Linked DNA regions of Homo sapiens: region 2 is linked to region 1. A link means that fine-mapping ties the variant in region 1 to the expression of a gene that starts in the linked region. Tissue or cell type: tibial nerve. Region 1 holds a variant in brackets; the other region holds the start of a gene. All regions are shown on one strand. Distances are from middle to middle.

Evidence for each region. PIP is the estimated chance that this variant, and not a neighbour inherited with it, causes the effect.
Region 2: FRMD1 starts here. The variant in region 1 is fine-mapped to the expression of FRMD1 in tibial nerve (GTEx, PIP 0.91).

The regions. Positions count from the first base shown.
Region 1 is chr6:168,002,726-168,009,902 of GRCh38, reverse strand. KIF25 (kinesin family member 25) reads right to left here. Exons shown (of 13, transcript NM_030615.4): 4 at 6,200-6,289. Among named protein-coding and RNA genes, the nearest start is that of KIF25, 8.6 kb to the right of the region's middle. RefSeq lists an enhancer at 1,580-2,779. The variant C/A (reference allele first, on the strand shown) is at 3,718.
Region 2 is chr6:168,075,756-168,081,843 of GRCh38, reverse strand. It overlaps FRMD1 (FERM domain containing 1), which reads left to right and starts at 2,632. Exons shown (of 11, transcript NM_024919.6): 1 at 2,632-2,962. The coding sequence starts at 2,750. RefSeq lists an enhancer at 2,920-3,641.

The DNA.
Region 1 (7,177 bases):
CACAAAAATACAAAGGATCATCCAGAACTACTATAAACAACCATATGCCAATAAATTCAAAAACCTAGAAGAAACAGATAAATTCCTGGATACATATAATCTACCAAGATTGAACAAAAAAGAAATTAAAAATCTGAACAGACCAATAACAAGTAATGAGACCAAGTCAGTAATAAAGTCTTCTAATGAAGAAAAGTCTAGGACCAGAAGGCTTCACTACTAAATTCGACCAAACCTTTAAAGAATAATTAATACGAATTCTTCTGAAACTATTGCAAAAAAAACTGAAGCAGGGGGAATTCTTGCTAACTCATTCTACAAGGCCAGCATAACCGGGATACCAAAACCAGACAATGACAAAACAATAACAAAAAACTATAGGCCAACATTCCTGATGAACATAGTTACAAAAATTCTCAGCAAAGTACTAGCAAACTGCATTGAACAGCACATCAAAAAGATAATACACCATGATGAAGTGGGATTTATCCCAAAATGTGAGGACAGTTCAAAATATGCAAATCACTAAACAAATTGGGTCACATCTACAGAATGAAGGACAAAAATCATGTGATCATCTCCAAAGATGCAGAAAAAGCTTTTCAAAATATTCAACATCCTTTCATGATAAAAAAAAACAACTCTTAATAAATTAGGTATAGAAAAAAACAACCTCAATATAATAAAGACAATATATAACAAACCCACAGCTAACATCCTAACATCTTTCAGCTTTTTCTTTAAGGACTGGAATAAGACAAGGATGCCAAGTCTCACCACTCTTATCAATATGGTATTGGAAGTCCTAGTCATAGCAATTAGGCAAAAGAAAGAAATAAAGAGCATCCAAATCATACAGAAGGAAGTCAAATTGTTCCTGCTTGAAGATAACATGATCTGATATATAGAAAATCCTAAAGACTCTACCAAAAATCTCTTAGAACTGATCGACAACTTCGGTAAAGTTGCAGGATACAAAATTAATATGAAAAAATCAGTATTGTTTCTATATATGAGCAATGAACTAAATGAAAAATAAATTTAAAAGGCACTCCCATTTATATACAATAGCTGCAAAAAATTTAAAATACCTAGGAATAAATTTAACCAAGGAGGTGAGAAACCTCTAAAAGGGTAATTAGAAAACACTAATGAAAGAAATTGAAGAGGATGCAAACAAATGGAAAGACATCTCATGCTCAAGAATTGGAAGAATTAAAATTGTTAAAATGACAATACAACCCAAAGCAATCTAGAGATTCAATGCAATCCTTATCAAAATACCAATGACATTTTTCACAGAAATTGAAAAAATTGTAAAATTTGTATGGAACCACAAAAGATTCCAAAAGGCCAAAGAAATGCTGAGAAAAAAGAACAAAGCTGGAGGAATCACACTACCTGCTCTCAAAATATATTACAAAGCTATAGTAACCAAAATAGCATGGTACTGGCATAGAAACAAACACATAGACCAGTGGAACAGAATAGAGAACCCAGAAATTAACCAACATATCTATAGTCAACTGATTTTTTAACAAAGATGTCAAGAACACTCATTGAGGAAAGGATGGTCTCTTCAATAAATGGTACTAGGAAAACTGGAAATCCATATACAGAAGAATGAAACTAGACCCCCACCTCTTACACTATACAGAAATCAACTCAAAATGGATCAAAGGCCTAAATGTGAGACACAAAGTGATTAAACTACTGGAAGAAAACACAGAGGAAATGCTTCAGGAAAAGGTTTTATGGGAATCTCTTTTGGCTTCAAGGAAGAAATTCTTTCATAAGGTAGGCCAAATCCATACAGTATTCCTTCATAAGGTAGGCCAAATCCATAAAGTAAACTAAAGAGAATGTTCTATTAAAGGAAAGAACAACAAATCCATGAAGTTCTCTCTCAGGCCATTTAAGATAAGAGTGATGCAGTAGGGCCTGTGGGCCCACAGAAATCCAAGCTATGACTGACCACAACAGGGAAATGTGATCTGAGAGACCAATAGATGCTTCTTTATCAACTAAGATGGATCCTAAGATTAAGGAAATAAAAGGTACCTATGAGTCAGAGGTTCAGGGCTTGGCTGCCTGACAGCTTCCTAAATTCCTGTGGCTACAAGAAAAACCACACTCTTGCTAAACTCCCTAACAACGGGAGCCATCAGGAAAATCCCTAACTCTGATTCACAACCCAGACCACCGCAACCCTGATTAGGCAGAGGATCAGCCTTGCACAATTCTTTCCTGAGAAGCAGCTGCAGACCTCCAGCTATTTTCGGCCAGCTTATACAGACTGTGCACAAACTGTGTGTCCTGGAGTTCACCTTTTAACAGAGAGAGCTGGAGACTGTCTCTTCTCAGTTTGCAAACTGATATCACTGATAAAATCCCCCTTTCTACTCTTTAGCCATCCTGGTAGTCATTACCATTGACTGTGGTAATCATTTTACTGATTGTATGGTTTTGTGTTTGTTTTTGTTTTTGTTTTGAGATGGAGTCTCATTCTTGTTGCCCAGGCTGGAGTGCAATGATTCAATCTCAGCTCACTGCAGCCTCTGCCTCCCGGATTCAAGCGATCTCCTACCTCAGCCTCCCAAGTAGCTGGGACTACAGGCGCCCACCACCACGCCCAGCTAATTTTTTGTATTTTTAGTAGAGACAGGGTTTCACCATGTTGGCCAGGCTGGTGTCGAACTCCTGGCCTCAGGTGATCCATCTGCCTTGGCCTCCCAAAGTGCTAGGATTACAAGTGTGAGCCACCATGCTCAGTTGTAAAACTGATTACCACATGTGTCATCCAAAGATGGATGGTAATCATATACATCTGTATATTAAATTATCATGTTGTAGATGTCGAATGTATACAATTTTTGTCGATTTTACCTAAATAAAGCTGAATCAATCAATCAATCAATAATACTTTAAAATAAAGAATTGTAAAAGTTTTTCTTTCTGGGGACATAGTAAGAGCAATTTTAAAGTATGGCTATAACAATTTTCTTGGCCTTTTTAAAAAGTATAAGGCTATCAGTCCGTTAACTAAAACTACCTTTTGAAAAAGAGTTTCTAAAGTTTACAATACGTAACCATCATCAGACTGATTCAGGTGACGGGCCTTGTAGAACCGCATATGGTAATCAACGTGACACAAAATCATCTTCAAAATGGCCATTGTGTCCTACATGACCTGAGATTTTCCTGAATTCAAAATTATCAATGTTAGTGAAGTGTTTAGCATTTCATGTGCTTTCTAAATTCATCTTGTGATCACCATAATAAGCTGAATGAAGGAGAGGCCCAGCATTTTTTTAACTGTTCTCACTGGGGACTTTGTAACGTACACAGAAATGGGGGAAACAGCACAAGACGTCCTCAGGTGCAATCGCCCGGTGCCACAAGTGTGGAATATCCGGCCAGTCTTGTTTCACAGACACTCCTGCAAAACCCACCTCCCTTTCCTCAGCATACTGTACATTCAAAACCAGACAACAGATCGTTGTATTGCTGAGTATTACAGGCTGCATTTTTAAATGATAAGAACACTTTTAAAGCACAATTTGCCCGGTGTGGTGGCTCACGCCTACAATCCTAGCACTTTGGGAGGCCAAAGCAGGAGGATCACATAAGCCAGGAGTTCAAGACTAGCCTGGGCAACATAGTGAGACCCCCCCATCGCTAAAAAAAAAAAAAAGAAATAGAATACAATCACCATGC[C/A]ATTCATCACACTTTACAAAATTAATGTCACATGGAGAGTGGCAGAACATGTCACCCCAAAATATGCCACTTTGGCATCAGGATTATCTTTACTTAAAGGTTCCTGAGAAGCAGGAGGCTCATGCAGAGCACTCCAGCTTCCCCTCTTCCTCCTGCACTGAAGGCAGGACCTGACCCTCCCATGAGAGCCGCCCTTGCTGGGCCAGGAACAAAGCATGTTCTCGTCAGTAGATGGGGTCTGTGATGGTTAATACCGAGCGTCAACTTGATCAGCGGATTAAAGGATACAAAGTATTGATCTTGGGTGTGGCTGTGAGGCTGTTGCCAAAGGAAATTAACATTGGAGTCAGTGGGGTGAGAAAGGCAGACCCGCCCTTAATCTGGGTGGGCACCGTCTAATCAGCCGCCAGCAAATATAAAGCAGGCAGAAAAATGTGAAGAGAGAGACTGGCCTAGCCTCCCAGCCTACATCCTTCTCCCGTGCTGGATGCTTCCTACCCTCGAACATCGGACTCCAAGTTCTTCAGCTTTGGATCTCGGACTGGCTCTCCTTGCTCCTCAGCGTGCAGATGGCTGTTGTGGGACCTTGTGATCGTGTGAGTTAATACCTAATAAACTCTCCTCTACATATGTATCTATTCCATTCGTTCTGTCCCTCTAGAGATCCCTGGCTAATACAGGGTCGAAGCTGAGCAGCTCTGCACAGACAGACCTGTTAGCACAGCCCTCGCCTTCCCTCTGTCTCCCATCTCATTTGGTTGCTTGTCCACAGTGGCCTCTGCCCAACCCCGCAGGGCAGCGTGCAGGCTGTGCCACTCCTCAACTCTTCATTTTCCGGGGGGCTCTGTGTCAGGTAGACCCCACATTCAACAAATCCGATGCTCTTCCCCGTCAACCTGCCTTAGGCCAATTCCATTCTCAGGCTCCACCAGGGACCCTAGGAGGATAGAGGAGAAGGTTTGCCCCCCTATATACCCAGGACACATTCGGACTTCCCCCACTGTCCCAACAATGCCTGTGACAGTCAGCTCGTGCATGCCAGGCTTGCCTGTGACAGTCGGCTCGTGCACGCCAAGCTCGCCTGTGACAGGTGGCTCGTGCACACCAGGCTCCAAACCAGGACACACTGAGGCTGACACGTCTCATTCTACTGTGTCCTCCTGCCTTTAAAAACAAAAGTTATTACTAGAGAAGCCAGGCAGTCTGTTCTGTGAAATGTCCGCATTCTGGCTTGGCAGATGGTTTTCTCTCCTTTAAAATGACTGTCCCCAAGACTTGATTAGATGCTGGTTTGATTTTGAAGCAAAAGTGCTTCATCAGTCCCACTGTGTCCCACCTGCTGCACCACCTCGGGACATCATGTCTCTGCATCCCAACTTCAGGGAAGCTGCGAGTGCTTAGAGGGTTTGAGGCAACCCTGAACCCTCGTCGTGAAGATCCTATCAACCCCTGAGCAGCGTCCACTCAGGAGAAAGTGCTTAGAGGGTTTGAGGCAACCCTGAACCCTCATCGTGACGATCCCATCAACCCCTGACCAGCATCCTCTGAGGGCCTAGAGTCACCATTTCATTGGGGGTTTCAAATGATGGTTTTCCAGTTTTATCATTTGTTGAGTTTATTACCTAGAATCTTCTGTTCCCTCAAAAACCATGCATCTGCCCTGAGTATGTTTCCTACAGGAAGGACATCACAACCCTTTTCTCTTTCTATCACTTTTTGGAATAATGAGTTGATGTTCTAGCACCCAAAAAATTAATGTGAGGTCTTTTTAAAAACTCATTATTATGAACTCAAGATTGTACATATAATTATATATTTCAATCTGCTTTAGTCCCTCCTTAATCCCCAGGCTTCTATCCCGCGTTGAGGGAGTGCCTGCCGTGGGCTCCATGTGCTGGGACAGCCCCCGTTCTGTTCTGAGGCCTCCCTTGCTGTTCAGCTCCCCAAGTGCCCCAGGCTCCTCCCACCCACTTCCTTTCCTGGCCCAGATGCGAGGTGTCAAATGAGCTTTTCTCCTGCAGTGGGCTTGGTACTCAGACACCCCTGGGGTGTTGGGCTGCTCCTTCTGACTTCTCGGCCTTTTCGTGGATAAAACTAAAAAGCAAGGAGGCTTTCAGGAGAAACAAAATCATGCTTGATTCCAGTTTAGAATCACAAAGTTCACCCATGATATCACTGATTTTATATTTATATCTCTTTTCCTGGTGCTCTAAATTTTAGAACTTGCTCATATTTGCACTGATTGATCATTTGGGCTGGAAAATAAATGGAAGTGAAGTAACTTCCTCACATAGAACTACGGGTCAGGAGCTGGTTTCCCACAAGGAAAGCATGTCAAATGCTTAATTTCATGTTCCAATAGAAATCAAGGAACAAAAACAACTCTTCTTAACTAAGAAAGCCTAAAATAAATTATTTTCTATTTATTCAGTCTCTGAGTTGCTCTCCATTGTAGGGATCTGTGGGGACTACGGACACCCACCAAGCAGGAAGCTGCTCTCTGAATACAATTTGTGAGGAAACTTGTAGACTCAGGTCATCAACAGCATGGGCCGCTTCTCTAGAGATGGAGCTGAGGGAATGAAACAACATTGAAAATACACATCATGAAGAAATTGCTTTCTGAATTCCTAACATTCAGCCTCTAAAACACCCTTGTGTTTCTTCGCCATCATCTCTGTCTCTGTCCTGGTCACTCTAAAACACCCCTCTGCTTCTCTGCCATCATCTCTGTCTCTGTCCTGGTCTCCCAGGACACTGGCTTGGCTCCTCTTCCTCCTCTTCCTGTGTGCATGGATCCACCCTTCCATCCTTTTCTAAAACTCCACTCGTCCTTTTGGACCTTATGCTTTTTATTTTTTTTACTCTTTACTTTTTATGTATTATTTTCTTCTCTTCCCCACCCCCTTTTGTCTTCTCTTGATTTTTTTACTCCAATACCCCTGTTCTTTATTTCTTGTTTTCATCTTCCCTGTCTGCATTGCATGGGAGAGTCATCCATACTCCAGTAAGAACGCTTAAATATCTCCTTCATGCGCAGTTTAGAGCGGTGGTGATACAGAACAAGGGTCCCAAATCCCTGGCCATGGAGGCCTGTTAGAAACCAGGCTGCACAGCAGGAGGTGAGCGGTGCGCAAGTGAGCAAAGCTTCTCTGAATTACAGCCGCTCCCTATCACTGGCATCACTGCCTGAGCTCCACCTCCTGTCAGACCAGCAGCAGCATTAGATTCTCTTGGGAGCACAAACCCTACTGTGAGCTGTGCATGTGAGGGATGCAGGTTGCACACTCCTTATGAGACTCTGATGCCTGATGACCTGTCACTGTCTCCATCACTGCTAGATAGGACCCTCTAGTTACAGGAAAATAAGCTCAAGGCTCCTACTGATTTTACATTGTGGTGAGTTGTATTATTATTTTGTTGTATATTACAGTGTAATAATAATAGAAATAAAGTGCAC
Region 2 (6,088 bases), 72 kb before region 1:
GCCATCACTGCCATCCGACCACCCCCAGAGGACACCTCGCCCCTCTGCAGTCCCTGCTGCCAGCTCCCTGGCCCCGAAGATGCTGCCTTTGCTGGATGTCTCGGAATGGAGCCCGGCCTTTTGCATCCAGCTTCTCCCTTGCAGTGGGATGTTTAGTCCTGTGCCTGTGTCAGTTCTGCCTTCCTTCTCACCACGGAACAGCATTCCCACATTGTTTTCCAAAACCTGTGCTTTGTGGACCTAGAGCTCCGAAGCTTGAGTTCTAGAATGTTCTCAGCAGGCCTCTATCTATCTCATGATAGAGGATGGAAACCAGCCGTCCAGAAGAAGAGAGAGTTGGGCCGAGGAGGACTCCAGGGCTCAGCCATGAGGAGATCTGGGCGGTGGTCTCCTCTTCCTCGCGGCCTCTGCCCGTCCACTGCCCGGCCCTGACATCACGAACGTGGCAGGCCAGCCTCTTCCATCACGAACAGGCCAGTCGAGAAGACAAGACATTCAGAGGTGGGGTCAGTGTTGGGGCCCGGTCACGCCTCTGCCTTCTCAGGGTGCAAAGTTGTCTTCTTGATGAGCTGAGGACAGAGGTTCTGGTGTCCCCTCAGTGCCCTGGCGGGAGGTACTCATGGCGACCACCCTTGCCTTGGAGCCTCAGCACGTTTTCAGGAAAAAGCCGCGCTCTCCCAGGAATACAACGGGGGCTTCCCAAGCCCAGCTCTCCCTGGCACTCAGATGGACGGCGGCCTTCACTGGAGGTCTGAACCTCAACGGTGTGGCCCTGAGACTCTGGGTGGGAAGGAAGGAGCTGGGGCCAGGGACGTCCTGCTTTGACAAGAATCCATTTATTGTGTTTATCAATACAAATGTGGAGTTTCCATTCCTTTTCCTTTTCTTCTCACTAATGATGTTTGGAGCTCATTGGCCCACGGTCACCTGTACACACCAGCGCCCACACACACCAGCGCCCACACACACCAGCACCCGCACACACCAGCGCCCACACACACCAGCGCCCGCACAAACCAGCGCCCGCACACACCAGCACCTGCACACACGTGGGGAACCATCGCTTTGATCATTAGTGCACCCAGCACAACTCCCCACCGTGTCCCCGGCTCTCCCCACCGAGGGGTCCTGGTGCCTGTTGTCCCCTCTGTGCTGTGTGTGCCGGTGGTGTTCTGCCACCCCCCAACCCTGGCCCCTGCCTGCCCTCTGCCACTGTCCTGCGCCCAGGCATCCTGAGAGGTGCAGCTGCTGCCGCCCTTCCTGATACGCCGGCACTGTGACTCCAGGCAGCGGCTGAGGGCACCCGGCACAGGGACGAGCTGCTCAGGCGCCAGTGGCACAGGGCCATGAGGATCCAGCCTCTGCTCTCTGGGGCTGTTTTTTTTTGTGGTTTTTTTGCCATTTTTAAAACTTTTTGTGCTCTCAGCTAAAGGGATCCCCACATCTTCCATAGTGAACAGCTCTACGTTTGCTGTGGAGAGAAAAGAGACCGCCACTGCTGTCTTGGGCACACATGTGTGGCCTCGAGGGTCTGGGAAGGGTCTGGATCTGAGCGGAGGGAGGGAGGGAGGGAGCCAGTGTCAGTCCAGGGTCCGGGGGAGGTGAGGCCTAAGCCTCCTAAATCTTCTCAACCCACCGGGCCGGGCCTTAGGGCGGCTGGAGTGCGAATTTCCTAAACCCACCGGGCCAGGCCTTAAGGCGGCTGGAGTGCGAATTTCCTAAGATGAACAACGGCCCGTCCGGAGGTCCAGACCCCTTACTAGAGGAAGGTCCCAGAGCATCCCAGACTCCATGGCAGGAAACTGATGGAGCTCACGGCTGAGGACAGAATTCCACAGCCCAGGCCCGTGGGAACTGCCTCTCCTGACCTGCAGCGCCCAAAGGTCTGGGTGGTCCCAGGGCCAGGCAGGATCCTGGGGTCCCTTCCCCACCTAACACTGTGCCAAAGAGCTCGAAGGCGTTGCTCATCTCTGCTGAGCGGCCTCAGGGGTTCCAGGCCCTGCGGGAGATGTCCCCACCCCTCGTGCTGATGCACCCGGCTGCTGTCCACGCAAGCCAGGACCCCCTTCCTGGCCTTCCAGCTGCTGCAGGCAGGAAGGGATTTGCTGGCCCTGGACAAGGAAGGAAGTGTCCTCAGTTTCCAGCCCCTAAAGGGAGCCAGGGTCCCTCCTGGCAGAACCTGTCCAGGAACGGCAGCTGTGCTGCTTCCTGAGGTCGATAACAGATGCCACAGGAGGTGTGTGGGGCAGGGTGCCCACCCAGGCTGCCTTCCTCCCGCCCTCCTCGTCCTGCCCTGCTGCTGCTCCATCTTCCCCAGCAGCCCTGGCTCTGGCATCTGTGCCCATGGGGTTTGCATAGCCCTCTCCACATTATAGAAGAAGGAGCAGGCACCCTGAGGAGATAGGGGTTGTCAGGTGGAGGAGTTGGGTCCTGTCTCCCCCAGCCTGGTTCTCACGGGGCCCACACCGAGGCTGGCTGCTGAGCTACCCTGCATGGGAGTGCTGCATGGCGGGTGCCCAGCCTGAGGTTGTTTATTTGCATTCCTGGCGCCCTCCACACACCCAGCTATTTGCAGCTCTGACCCTTGTCCTGGCTTGGCCATGCTGGATTCCCAGCCCAGGCTTCCCTCTCAATTCCCTTCCCAGTGAGAAGCTCGGCAAGGGCGGGTCCCGGAAAGCACAGCTGTGATCTGGGAGGTGCTGAGCACCCACCTGCGACCCATGGCGGGGGAGGGCCGAGTAACGACAGCATGGCGGTGCCCCCGAGAGGGAGGGGCATAGACCCCGCCCGGACAAACCCTGACACGTTCCCTCCTTCAGGGGCGCGATGTATGGAACCCAGTCCTGAGAGGCCTGCATGCAGTCAGCAGGAGCCGACCCTGGGAATGGACGCGATGGCCTCGGAACACAGGGATGTCCTCGTGCTGCTGCCCAGCCGGGAGCAACTGCGGCTGGCCGTGGGGGTGAGCAGGGCCCTGGGTGGCCGTGGGGGTAAACAGAGCTGTGGGGGTGAGCAGGGCTCCGGGTGGCCGTGGGGGTGAGCAGGGCCCTGGGTGGCCGTGGGGGTGAGCAGGGCCCTGGATGGCCTTGGGAGTAAACAGAGCCATGGGGGTGAGGAGGGCCCTGGGTGGCCATAGGGGTGAGCAGGGCTGTGGGGGTGAGCAGAGCCATGGGGGTGAGCAGGGCCCTGGGTGGCCGTGGGGGTGAGCAAGGCTGTGGGGGTGAGCAGGGCCGTGAGGGTGAGCAGAGCCGTGGGGGTGAGCAGGGCTGTGAGGGTGAGCAGAGCCGTGGGGGTGAGCAGGGCCGTGGGGGTGAGCAGGGGTATGGGGTGAGCAGAGCCTCAGGACACAGCCTGTGTATGGAAAGTCCCTGGACCGCCTCACTCTGCTTAGGCCAGGTGTCTGTGAGGTGTCAAGGGCCAGCCCTTTCACTGGGCCTGTGAAGGAAACATCCCTGATAGACGTTGCTGTGAGAAATAAGTTTATGGTTCAGCACATCCTTCCCGGGAGGGAGCGCTGAGGGAAGAGCGCCAGGAAGCCGGTTTCCAAGGAGCAGCTCCTGTCTTGTGTTCAGACGTCACCATCTCTATGCTTCTCTATTTCCTTTTCTTTTCCCTTTCCCCCATTTTGTCTACCTGTTTTAGTTGAGTTCATGGCGACAGGAGTTGAGATGGTACTTTCATTTTAATGATTAATGTGGATAATGAAAATGTGGCAATTAAAATGAGAGTGGTTTGTTGAAGAACGATGACTTTCTGCATAGCTAATGTATCATTGCTACCTGGAATGGAGTATGACTTGCTAGTAATATCCTGGTTCAAGTCCCCTGGGAATCTGGGAGTCTCTTGTCTGCTTCGGGATAGAGTTCTGTGTTTACGTAAACGCCCACATCTATGTTTGTGGCAAAATCTTCCCCAAGACTCTGTGTCCCCACCCAGCAACGAGAAGCTGGAGTTGAGCTAATGGGGGATGTCCTGTAGTTTCCTGGGGTCCCCAGCAGTGCCTCGGGCTGGGGGAGGGGTCATAAGAGGACCTGTTGTGGGGAAGATGCTGGGGCTTTGGCCCCCTACCCCATAAGAGCTGGAACTTTTAGGTTTCTTGCACGGAACTTCACGGTAAGATTTTAACTGAGGGATCATGCAGCTAGAACATAGTGAACCGCCTGTTCTGAACAGGTGAATCGTGCTCATCTGCTTTTGACGGAGCTCCCTGAAGTGCCTCTGCAACTCCTGTGGCCCCTGCTGGGCCTGGCAAGTTGGCAACCACAGAGCCACTTCCTATCGGGGTGTGCGCACATCTGTGTCTGCAGTTGGACAGGAACCCCTCACTGGGTTGTGCAGTCATCTATGTCTGCAGTTAGACAGGAACCCCCCCACAGGGTGTGTGCACATCTGTGTCTGCAGTTGGACAGGAACCCCTCACTGGGTTGTGCAGTCATCTATGTCTGCAGTTAGACAGGAACCCCCCCACAGGGTGTGTGCACATCTGTGTCTGCAGTTGGACAGGAACCCCTCATTGGGGTTTGCAGTCGTCTATGTCTGCAGTTAGACAAGAACCCCCCCCCATCGGAGTGTGTGCACATCTGTGTCTGCAGTTGGACAGAAACCCCCTATTGAGGTGTGCACACATCTGTGTCTGCAGTAGGAGAGGAACCCTCTATCAGATGTGCATGCATCTGTGTCTGCAGTAGGAGAGGAACCCTCTGTTGGTGTGTGCACACATCTCTGTCTGCAGTAGGACAGCAACCCTCTGTTGGGGTGTGCATGCATCTGAGTCTGCAGTAGGAGAGGAACCCTCTGTTGGGGTGTGCATGCATCTGTGTCTGCAGTTGGACAGGAACCCTCTGTTGGGGTGTGCACGCATCCGTATCTACAGTTGGACAGGAACCCTCTATTGGGGTGTATACTCGTGTGTATCTGTAGTTAGACAGGGAACGCTCTATTGGAGTGTGTGCACACCTGTGTCTGCAGTTAGACAGGAACCCTGTATTCAACCAAATATGTGTCAAGCCCAGTTATTCGAAAGGGATGGGCTGGGAAGACCCTCACTGAAGATCTGTGTTACCGTCATTGTGGGGCCTGCCCCTCACCAAGTTAAGCAGACAATAATCATATTAGTCTGTTCTCACGCTGCTAATAAAGACATACCCAAGACTTGGTAATTTATAAAGGAAAGAGGTTTAATTGACTCACAGTTCCACATGGCTGGGGAGGCCTCAGGAAACTTACAGTCATGGCAGAAGGCACCTCTTCACAGGGTGGCAGGAGAGAGAATGAGTGCCCAGCGAAGGGGGAAGTGCCTTATAAAACCATCAGATCTCATGAGAACTCTCTCACTATCATGAGAACTGGATGGGGGAACCACCCCCGTGATTCAGTCACCTCCCACCGGCTCACTCTCACAGCACAGGAAGATTATGAGAACTACAATTCAAGATGCGATTTGGGTGGGGACACAGCCAAACCATATCAATAAGGAAGTCAGTCTTACAGTAACTCAGGATTAACTCAGGATTAGTAAGCTGGATACTCATTTGACTTGAAACATGCAAATGAAGAATCGCAAAATGGCCTCCTGCAGATCCAGCTGCCCCAGCTGTGCCCTGCTGTGAGGTTTCCTCTTGGAGCCCCAAGTGAGGGTCCTCGGGAGAGTCTGAGAGCAGAGCGCACGGCAACCGTCCTGCACCCTCCGTCACAGGCTTGGCGCCCTGCGATTCTGCCTGAGAACGCTGCCTCTGCTGCCCGGTGACCAGGGATGGGCCCCAGCGCTGCAACAGACAGGACTCAGGAAGAGCTCTGCAGGGGATGCCCGCCAATCCCATCCATGCCGGGGCTGAACAGGCGTGAAGTAGTGTCACATGCGAGACGCCGGAAATGCGGACACGGGACACCGGAAATGTGGACACCGGGCACCGGAAATGTGGACACCGGGCACCGGAAATGTGGACACGGGACGCCGGAAATGTGGACACCGGGCACCGGAAATGTGGACACGGGACGCCGGAAACAGGGACACGCACCAGACGCTGGGTGTTTAGAGGCTGCCGTGAGAGGCTCAGCTGTAGGAACACTGTTGGGATCACTCGCATCA